Linked DNA regions of Homo sapiens: regions 2, 3 and 4 are each linked to region 1. Evidence: fine-mapped expression QTL. A gene starts in region 1. Each other region holds a variant in brackets. All regions are shown on one strand. Distances are from middle to middle. Region 1 holds the start of LINC01474 (long intergenic non-protein coding RNA 1474). Region 2 overlaps TMC1 (transmembrane channel like 1). Region 3 overlaps ALDH1A1 (aldehyde dehydrogenase 1 family member A1). Region 4 has its middle 25 kb from the start of LINC01474.

Region 1 (2,694 bases):
TTCATGGCACTATTTTGGAATATGAGAAAAATATTTTAAAATGCATTTCTTGGCCTCTCTTGTTTTGTTTTGTTTCCTTCCTGCTGCTCTTGGGGAGTATTAATAAAAGAGATGGGATAAGTGAAAAACACAAGACAGAGAACTATTTATTTTTTTTCAGTTTTTTTGCCACTGAAATGAAAAGATTATAATAATAATAGTCACCATTTATTAAACTCTGCTAAGCACATCATGGCCTGATTCAATCCTTTTAGCATCATACAAGGAAGTTATTATCTCCCCTTTACAGAGAAGGCTGTGGCTGGGGAGGTAGGGGTTGAGAACTTGCCTGAAGTCATAGCACATCCTAGCTGCTAGGAACTATTTTCTGAGCTAGGCTCTTCACACTGACCATCTTATAAAGTCTCTCACAGCATCCCTGGAATAAATGCATTATTGTCAACATTTTTATAACTTACAAAAGGCTAAGTGGTAAATTGAGGGTAGAATTCAAACTGAGGTCTTTCCAACTCCAAAACATGTGCTGTGATGACCGTGCCATAAACTTTCTCGTACCTTGTCAGAACAAATGTACTGAAACTACCATAGTTTCAGAACTGTAATAATCGATGCATAGTCCCCATTGGTAGATTTAGTGTTTTACAATAGAGTTTCTGAAAAGCAGTTTTAAAATACCCTTCAGCAAGCATTTACTGAGGCCTCGTCTAGGCCAGGACTTGGGCTGGACATTGCAGGCATGGCCACAGTAACGATGACTCAGAACTTGCCCCCAAGGAGTTCACAGTCTGGGAGCATTGGGGAGAGGAGCAGAAAGTAAACTAGAGAGCACAAAACACAAAGTCACACTCTTGTATAACATACACTCAGTAAAAAGGAGGCCCACTAGAGCAGGGTTTCTCAACCTGGCACTATTGCATTTGGGGCTGTCTGAGTCTTGCTGTGGGGGCTGCCTGTGCATTGTGGGGTATTAGCAGCATCTCTGAATTCTACTCAGTAGATACCAGTAGCCCCCCCACAACCAAAAATGTCTCTGGACATTGCCAAATGTCTCCTGAGGTTGGGGGAGTGAGAATCACTGCCCCACAGTTACATCCTGGCAGAGTTAAGCAATGAAACAAAATCACTGGCCATTAATAATACTATATGATTTTCAATTAAGAGCTTATTTACACACCAAGTACCTTAGAAACCTGATCTCATCCCATCCTCATCAAAACCTTATGGTGTGTACAAGCTGGAATGATGCCTATTTTATAGGTTAGGGCACTGAGGCACAAAGAGTTTAGTGGATGCCTAGCTGCACAGTAGTGACCGATAGAGCAGGCATTTGAAGCCTGCCCTGCCATCTTAGTCAGTGCACCGAGATATGAAGAGCATTTTTAAAGTGTGCTAGGCTCTTTCATTTTCATTACATGTCCACTGATATGGTTTGACTCTGTGTCCCCACCGAAATCTCATGTCGAAATGCAATCCCCACATGTTGGAGGAGGGACCTGGTGGGAAGTGATTGGATCATGGAGGTGGATTTCCCTCCTACTGTTCTCGTGATAGTGAGTGAGTTCTCATGAGATCCAATGGTTTAAAAGTGTGTGGCACTTCCTCCCTTCACTCTCTCTCTCTCTCCGGCCACCATGTGAAGATATGCGTGCTTCCCCTTCACCCTTCTGCCATGATTGTAAGTTTCCTGAGGCTTCCCCAGCCATGCCTCCTGTACAGCCTGTGGAACTGTGAGTCAAACCCCTTTTCTTCACAAATTACCCAGTCTCAGGTAGTTCTTTATATCAGTGTGAGAACAGACTAATACATCCACAGGCTGACCTAATCTAAAATTAGCAACACAAAGGAATGAATATTTATAATTGTATACAGTGTTATCCTTTGTGAATATTCTATCTTATCCATTCTGGACCTAATTAATCTAGTTTATTTTGGATGATTTGCTTATGGGAGTCTTGCTTTAACCAGGGAAAATATTTATTAATTCTGAAGAATGTAGTAAGTTTCATATCTTGATTTATATTTTGGCAGTTCAACCATGCACTGTGTGGGGGCCAAAAAAATCCCTAAAAATAATCATATGATATTGGCTAAGACCAAATGCAGCCAGTTATTTCTGTTGGTATGTCTTAATGAGGGAAAAAGGCAGAGCTGGATGCCTCTTCTTTCTTAAATTAAAAACAAAACAAAATAAACAAGCAAAAAAAACTTCAAGAGACTTCAAAGGTCAGTAGAAAGTTTTCGTTTAAATTGCCAATTGTACAATTTGAGGAATGCAAGTAAACTGCCCTCAAATAACTTTTCTAGGTATTTTTCAAAAAATTCTAAAGGGAATATTTGCTTTCTAGGCAAGGTTTTTAAATATTTCATTATCTAGGCTTAGATAGCTTGGATAGAATAGTTATTATTTTATATTCAATCTTTTACTTTAGCAGACTATTAGGATATGCTTGTTGTGACTCAGTTTTTTGTATCTACCATCTGTTGGTTTATTACCCAAATCTATAAGTAAACATCAACATAGGAAGCTTTACTGTCACTGAAGCTTTATTAAATAAATGAGTTTAATTGTGGATTGTTATCTGTGAAGTCAGGACCTGGGAGAGAAAAAAGCTACCAGCAACATTCAGACTGAGAGAGGCCAAAATACTAATTCATAATTAGCCTGGTACATATGAAGGATCAAAAAGAACAGGA
Region 2 (2,694 bases), 64 kb after region 1:
AGTGAGCAATGATCACCTTAAAAATACAACTGTGAACACCATGCTGAGTTTATTGAACATTCCCTTACCCCATCATGCCCTGAATCTAATTCTATTTCTTCTTGAATATTCTTTACTTGCTTTGCTGGTAAATAGTAAGAATGGTGTCAATGAAAACTGAAGTGAAGATAAAGATATTCTGCATTGAACTGCCAAAGAAAACCCAAAGTTTACAAGAGGGCACACTTTGTATTAAATTAGAGCAGTTAAAATCCTTCCTAGGGACAAACTATTCTACTCCTCATGAACTCTTCTGAAACACTGAGAACTGTGCTCAGAGAAGCCTTTGGAGACATTAACTTACATTACATTAACTTACATTGGTCTGGTAATCTGCTCCAAGCCAGTAATTTTTCCACCTTAGTTAATCTTCATAGGTTTGTTGTGATAACATTATGACCATAAATTTGTGTCTTGAAAAATATTCACAATCCCTTTTAACCCAGCTTACTCAGATAGAGCCAGTACAGAAATCAATACATTTAACATAACATTTTCGTCCAGAAGTGTACTTCATTGTCCTTATTATTCTCTGGCTACATAAACTTAGGAACCTCATTTCAATTCACAGATGCAATTTTTCATATGTTAAATACATGCATTACAACTGGTTGTGTCAAAATCCACCTAACTTTAGCATTCTATAGATCTCTGAATCTAATGCTGAAATCTGCAGAGTCTCTACAGAGGCTGTTGTAATAAAAGTGAATAGACTTTTTTAAAGCCCTCTACTGTGACTGAGCAATTCAACTCAGAGAAATTTATCATAAGAAAATAATTTGTACATCCACTATGATTTATCTATGAAGATACTTATGTACATGGATATAATTAAATGTCATCACAACACTTATTATCATAAGAATAATTAGACAGTTCAACTTAAAGCAAATTAAAAACTAATTAGATTAATTATACTACATTTGCATACAGAATATTATACAACCATTTAAAAGGTATGTTACAAAACAACAGTTAATAGCATTGGGAAATGATCAGTGTTAGGTAAAACAAATAAAAGCAAGTAACCAGTCTACTCTACTACCTGTTTACACACATATATACGTATACAAAAGTATATATGTGTATATTTATAAAAATCTGTTACTATATATAAATATGTAGCACTTGTTATCTAACACTATTTGATTCAACAATCCAAATAATTAATCTCATTAGTGGCAGAGATTACCTATGATTTTTACTTTCATATTAGCTTTGTTATATTTTCCAAATTTTCTACAATAAACTGGCATTATTTTTGGAATTCAGAAGAAAAAAATCATGTGCTTTGTGTGTGTGTATACATGCACATGCATGCATACAGTAGAAAGGACCATGATTTTATCTTTTATTTCTGACAGAATTCTCAAGTATGTCCTCTGCCTATCTC[A/G]GGTTGTCCTTCCCTTCATGACAGGTACTTTCTGAAACCATATTATTGATTAGCAGGTCTAGGAGAATAGCAGAGAAACATTCTTATTAGCCTTTTCTGCTCTAAAACAGCCTCATTTTAGTTTTTTTTTTTTTTTTTTTTAATCTATGCCTGGATTGCCCACACTATCTATCTCTGGTGCTCTGTCTTACACTTGTCCCTCCACCGGGAATTCTTTCTTTCATCTCTTGAAATCCTGATCATTCTTCAAGACTTAGTTCAAATGTCTCCTCCTCTGTGTCTGCATTTCTACTGATGCACGCCTGTCTCTCTCTCTCTCACACACACACACAAACACACACACACTTTCTCTTCAAGGGCCATACAATTGATTTCTCTATTTATATCGGGAGCTTGTAAGAGAAAAGAGTGGTGAAGAGTATGAGGAACTGGAGAATGAATATCCCAACTGCAGATGGCAGTGGTTTCTCAACTCCAGCCAATTTCTCCCTAGTGGGAATACAGATTTAATGTTGCCAGCCTTTCAAGAAAAACAATAAATCCATGTGTTTTTATGTAAGAGCTCTCATTTTAAAATATTAGCTCATAAAAAATGAAACAAAAACAAACACCACCACTGGGCATACCAAACAAAAATATCCATTAGCTGAATCTACCCTGCAGGCCAAATTTGCAACCTCTACGTAAGTCTACATCTTCTACATCCCTGTATTCCTTTATCACCTAGCACAGAGTTTGTTCATAATGGCTTGCACCTAGTAGGCCCTCACCCGTGTAAGCTATCCATTTGGTAAGTCAATGACAATGGGATCTACATCAAAGATTCGTCATCCATCATTAATGTTTTAAAACTTGTTTTGATTCTGACAGAGCTTTTTTGAGCCTTCCAAAGGTAACGTGGGAGAAAATTCCTTCTCTGTGACCTAAAACAGGAACTTGTCTTTTTTCCTGTACTTTCTACTAACCCAGGAACACTGTCAGCAGTCAATAAATAATAAATTACAGTCATTTAATTACAGCTTTTATGCATCCAGGTCATGTAATATTGACTTCATATTTGCACTCAGATTTTCTGCCACTTAAGAAGAAGGCAGCCAAGGGATAAAAGGTAAGTACAAGCCAAGCAATGGTCTAAGGAAGAAATGGCAATTTTTATGTCTGCCTCAGAGGAGCTGAATCAGGTAAGGAAAATAGAAATGAAACCAAGCCAGCTGAATACCTCATAGCAAAGAATGGGAAAGCAACACAAGAGCATCCTGTAT
Region 3 (2,694 bases), 58 kb before region 1:
GCTCACTGCAACCTGCACCTCTCAGGTTCAAACGATCCTCCCACTTCAGCCTCCTGGGTAGCTGGGACTACAGGCACACGCCACCACACCAAGCAACATACCTTGATTTTAAAGAAAAGAAAGCTGAACCTTAGAGAAGTCATGCCACAACATATTTCATGGTTTATAATAATGTTTTGGGATAGTGATTTGATTGTATGTCTCTCCCATTTGATTGAATATTCCAAAAGGACAATCTTCTTACTTCACTCTGCTGTCTTTAGCGGAGGGATGATGAGAATGCTGCAGAGTCGAATATTTATCAAACCTTTAGCTAGAGGGATGAATGGTTAGATGCCTCAAGGTTTACACAGCTAATGAAGAGGAATCAGAATTCAAATCTGGGTTGTTTTCATATCAAACTATATATTAACTAACATTACTGTATTTCTGCATCTGCAAGATTACATATAAGATGTGAGAAAAGGGGGCGCATGATCCAAAGGACATAATCATAAGAACATCTTTATTTATAGCAGCATTCTTTAGGGATGTGCTTTCCATATGGGAGAGTTACTTATCTTGAAGCCAGTTCTCCGTATCCCTTTGGGAGGCCAAGATCCCTATGATAGCCCATATTTGGCTAAGACCAATAGCAGGACACTGAACAGAAAGATCCAAATGAAAGCTGTGTCATACAGATCTGTTTAAACACAGACCAGCATGTATTTTATAAGCTCTGGTATCCACAGATCATGCTGACAATCTCAGATTTTTGTGGTTTGCTTTTTCTTTTTTTCAAACAGTGCTCTGTAAATTTAGGAAAAAGTTAGAACGTGTGGCATGAAACAATGTCTAAATATAAGCAATCAATGTGATTAACTGAATGCCGCAAATATGCACTGTATATGTATTTCTCAGGAAAGGCAGGCAATAAATACATATATTTTGTATATATCATCATTCTCTGAAAAGTTAGACAGTGAGATATATCAGTGTGTGATGTATTACACTGAAAGAATCTTTGCTTGTAGTCAGTAAATATTATTACTTAATCAGACCAGATTGTGCTTCTAAAATATCTCTCTTGCCCCAGATCATATTATTTTGGTGATAAATACTAGAAGAATAGTTTTTTTGTATTTTAATTCACAGACTTGTAAGTGTGGGTCTTCTTGATTGAATATAGCCTAAGGAGGAGGATGTTAATTTGAGGTCCATTTGAGGGGAAGATATCTCCTTAGATGGGATTTAGCTTAATTGTGTACAATTTTTTAAAAAAATCTAGGGTCATTACTTTTT[C/G]TCTCCCCCAATTCTTAAAGGGAATTGTGTCTCCTGCAAAATATTGCAACCTACTGGCCTGTGATATAGCCACTATTTGTGGAGCTATACAATTCCATGTAGTGGCCAGTTCTATGTACAAAAGAACACTGGAATGATATATTCCTTTATGGTGTTTGCAGTAGTAGTAGGTATGTTCTGTAAGAGCTCAGAAGAGGTCTGAACAGGGATCTGCAGGGGAGTGGAGTGGTCAGGGCAATATTTGTAACTGAGGTGAATTGCAAAAGAACCAGAGAATATATCTGGTGTAGAAAAACACAACAGAGAAAGAAATTGAGTGAAGGCACTATGAGAGTGAAGGACAGGAGGCTACACTGAATGTGGAGTCACTTTACTCTTTGACTTTTACTTGAATTAATGTAGTTTTAAGCCATGCATCTTTAATAAGAAACTGACTTCTTTATCGGATTAGGGATTTAAAAGGATCTCTTTGTACCCAGTTGGGAAATGAGAGGTTGTCACATGCACATCCTACTCTATTAGTTCCACTATTTCCATGCCCTGTTCCCTCTGCACAAGAGGAATGAGCACATGTTTCTAAGGTTTATTCTTCAACAGCAAAGCAAAGTTCTTATTCACCCTTCAATAGGCTCTTCATGAAAGTGGACAGGCTGTTGAGTCACCAGAGACCAAGGAAGATATTCATTATTTTGGATCTTGAGCTTGACCTGGAATTCCTGTAACCCAGTCACTAAGAAAGTATAATGTGTGGTAAACAGCAAAGATTCTACAATCAGATGGGCTCCCTTTAAAACTCAGTTCAGCCACTTTTAGTTATTAACCTTGAGCAAAGCTCCCGTCTCTCTTTGCTTTAGTTTCTTCATCTGTAAAACAGGGAACATATTTGTGCCATAAAATTAATGAGAATTAAATGAGCTAATAGGTATAAAGTCATCAGAACATTACTTGAAACAGGGCAAGCACTCAGATGATAGCAACTATTAAAATCATAAAACACTTATATTCTAGGAAATCCAGCATGTGCTAGGTACGTGGAGCTCATCATGTAAAGATTATTCAGCAGGAGTAATTCCAACATACAGTAGTTGAATGTGCGCAATGTGTTAGACTTTGGGATAATGGAGACACAGTGCCTGCTTATGAGGCACTACAGTCTATTTTACAGGGTTATTGGCATTAAATTTGCTTGCCTAATATGTTTAGCTTACTGAATTGAATTCCTGTTGACTTACAGGAGGATGTTGACAAGGCAGTGAAGGCCGCAAGACAGGCTTTTCAGATTGGATCCCCGTGGCGTACTATGGATGCTTCCGAGAGGGGGCGACTATTATACAAGTTGGCTGATTTAATCGAAAGAGATCGTCTGCTGCTGGCGGTGAGTATTATCCAAGCTGGATGGGTAGCTAGAGCTCT
Region 4 (2,694 bases), 24 kb before region 1:
GACATGTTCCATTGAAAAAACATTCGGAAAAATTCTATACAATATATTTTCCTCTCTTGGAATTTCAGATTGCACATCGGCAGCATATTATAGGTTTCGAGAAGTCCTGCAACCTTCTTAGTTTTAATAGAGCCCCCCCTTTTTTTTTCCAAATTAGCAGAGACTTTGTCTCCTCTCCCTCACCTCCTCAGTTACCACCAATTAACATTAAGAAACCCATGCTGGGCTGAATACAGTGGCTCACTCCTGTAATCCTAGCACTTTGGGAGGCCACAGCAGGTGGATCTGTTGAGCCCAGGAGTTTGAGACCAGCCTGGGCAATGGGCAAAATCCCACCTTTATTTAAAAAAAAAAATTAGCCAGGCATAGGGGCACAAACCTGTGGTCCCATCTACATGAGAGGCTGAGGCAGGAGGATGGCTTGAACCTGGGAGGTCGAGGCTGCAGTGAGCCATGATCATACTACTGCACTCTAGCCTGGGTGACAGAGTGGGACCCTGTTTCAAAAATAAAAATAAAAATAAAAACCCTTGCTGTCCTATGCAATGAGGGAACCCTTAGAGTTCTAAGGAGAGATCTGGGAATCAAAAGAGAGCAGCTGAAAAAAATGTCCTCCACATGAAACTACACCAAGCTTACACATTTACCCCCTCATAACAGAATTGCTGCTTGTGTTTTCATTCTTCTGTTGTGCTTCCATATACAAAGTGATTTAGGCCCAAATGAAATGAACATTTGTGTATAACTATACACATTCTAAAATTTTTTTAGTTTGGCAACTTAGGATAACATTTTTTTCAGATTTTATATAAGTTTATCATTTTACATTAACAGACACTTCAGTGCCTCTATTATTAGGACACTACTAGCTGCTGCAGTCAAGTGTAACAATGTAAGAACAAATGAAGTTCATTGGCTTCTTTTACAGGAAATAATTTAACTCCCATTTCGAGAGTTTTTCAAACTTATGTTGGCCTATAAACTTTGCAATTTGGACTACCTCGTAAGATTTGGGACATGTTTACCCTTTTGAAAACTGAAGAAACCAAAGCCTTGGGGAGAACTGAAAGGTCTTTGGACAATGAGAAGGAAAAGTGTCCAAACACAGAGGGAGTTGTGTTTTCCTAAAGCCAGACAGTGTCTACATTTTAAAAGATGTGTTTAAAGCCACGTGTAAATAAATTAATAGGTAGACAAGTTAATATTGTAATGGCATGCAACCAGAACATTTTAAAATGTGTAACAAAGAAAGCAGAGGACAGAACAAGACAAAAGCCAGAAGCAAGTTTAAATATTAGAAAATTTTCATTGTATAAATAAGACATTACAG[G/A]ATTAAACAGAAAATATCTGTTTTATATTGGCTCGTTCTGAGTCTCTAGACATTATTTGTATTATATTTCATTATTTATATTAAAGCCATACAGGTAGTAATTCTTAAAACCTTGAAAAGTTAAAAAGTATCTTATTAGCTCATGTGCTAGAGGAATTCCAGTAAGAAATTTCATCTTGAAAAATTCAGTTTTGCGGTCATAACTATGATCTCATTGTCCTCAGTGTACAAATGGTAAAGTATTTTTATCTCCAGGAATACCAAACTAAGTGACAGAGGTTGGAATTCACTTTTTTAGGCAGAGACAACATCAGGTATCAGATACTCATTCACAAATGTCTAATCTAGTTCGGTTTTCTTCTTTTTCTTTTTTCTCTTTTGTTGTTGTGGTTGTTGTTGTTGTTTTGTCTTTTTGTTGTTGTTATCTTCTAAGGATACATACTTCTGGCTTTATTGAATACATACCTCTGGCTTTATTTTGAAACAGCCAACAAGAAATGGAAGGCAGGTTAAACGTTTTTCTTAAATTCTTGTGACCAACTCAAATAGAACCAACTCAGAGAATTTTAGCCATTTCTTCACATAATTCAGGAGGGAGCAATGAACTCAAAAGATCTTTTGTCTGGGCAATGTGTGTAATGTTTTGAGTGTCTAATTTCACTTGAACACTTAGAAATGCAATTCTGCAAATTAGTTCTCCTGGCTTTTTCAGAGTATACTACATGACCAGGTTACATTTTCACATGAAACACATTTGCTATTAGAGTTTCATTTACTGATTTATCCTGGGATTTTTTAAAATTTTATTTTATTTTAAGTTCCAGGATACATGTGCAGGATGTGAAATACCATTTGACCCAGAAATCCCATTACTGGGTATACACCTAAAGGAGTATAAATCGTTCTTTTATAAAGATACATGCACATGTATGTTCACTGCAACACTATTCACAATAACAAAGACATGAAATCAACCCAACTGCTCATCAATGATAGACTAGATAAAAAAAAATGTGCTACATGTACACCATAGGATACTATGCAGCCATAAAAAGAATGAGATCGTGTCCTTTGCATGGACATGGATGGAGCTGAAAGCCATTATCTTCAGCAAACTAACACAAGAACAGAATGCCTTGGGATTTTTTAATGTTCTCTGGAGACGTGTTTGAGCTTTTCCAGTCTGGTGGTGAAAGAATATATTGAAAGGGAAATTGGCAATGAGAACTAAATTTTCTAGATACCAGAATTTAGTGACTGCCAGGAATGCAGGAAAGCTTTCTGTTGTAGGACACAAGGACTGTAGCATCCTGGAGAATATCCTGAGTCAAGACACAAGGGAGGGAAAAGAGTTCACTTACCAT

Evidence for each region. PIP is the estimated chance that this variant, and not a neighbour inherited with it, causes the effect. A credible set is the group of variants that fine-mapping cannot tell apart.
Region 2: its variant is the best candidate, but not a certain one, in a credible set for the expression of LINC01474 in whole blood (TOPMed, PIP 0.64).
Region 3: its variant is the best candidate, but not a certain one, in a credible set for the expression of LINC01474 in breast (GTEx, PIP 0.51).
Region 4: its variant is the best candidate, but not a certain one, in a credible set for the expression of LINC01474 in visceral fat (GTEx, PIP 0.55).

What each region holds. Positions count from the first base shown.
Region 1 is chr9:72,873,049-72,875,742 of GRCh38, reverse strand. LINC01474 (long intergenic non-protein coding RNA 1474) reads left to right here and starts at 1,634. Exons shown (of 4, transcript NR_121181.1): 1 at 1,634-1,675; 2 at 2,588-2,694.
Region 2 is chr9:72,809,016-72,811,709 of GRCh38, reverse strand. The region is part of intron 18 of TMC1 (transmembrane channel like 1); the gene reads right to left. Among named protein-coding and RNA genes, the nearest start is that of LINC01474, 64 kb to the left of the region's middle. The variant A/G (reference allele first, on the strand shown) is at 1,433.
Region 3 is chr9:72,930,841-72,933,534 of GRCh38, reverse strand. It overlaps ALDH1A1 (aldehyde dehydrogenase 1 family member A1), which reads left to right. Exons shown (of 13, transcript NM_000689.5): 3 at 2,516-2,656. Among named protein-coding and RNA genes, the nearest start is that of ALDH1A1, 21 kb to the left of the region's middle. The variant C/G (reference allele first, on the strand shown) is at 1,282.
Region 4 is chr9:72,897,443-72,900,136 of GRCh38, reverse strand. No RefSeq gene overlaps it. Among named protein-coding and RNA genes, the nearest start is that of LINC01474, 25 kb to the right of the region's middle. The variant G/A (reference allele first, on the strand shown) is at 1,331.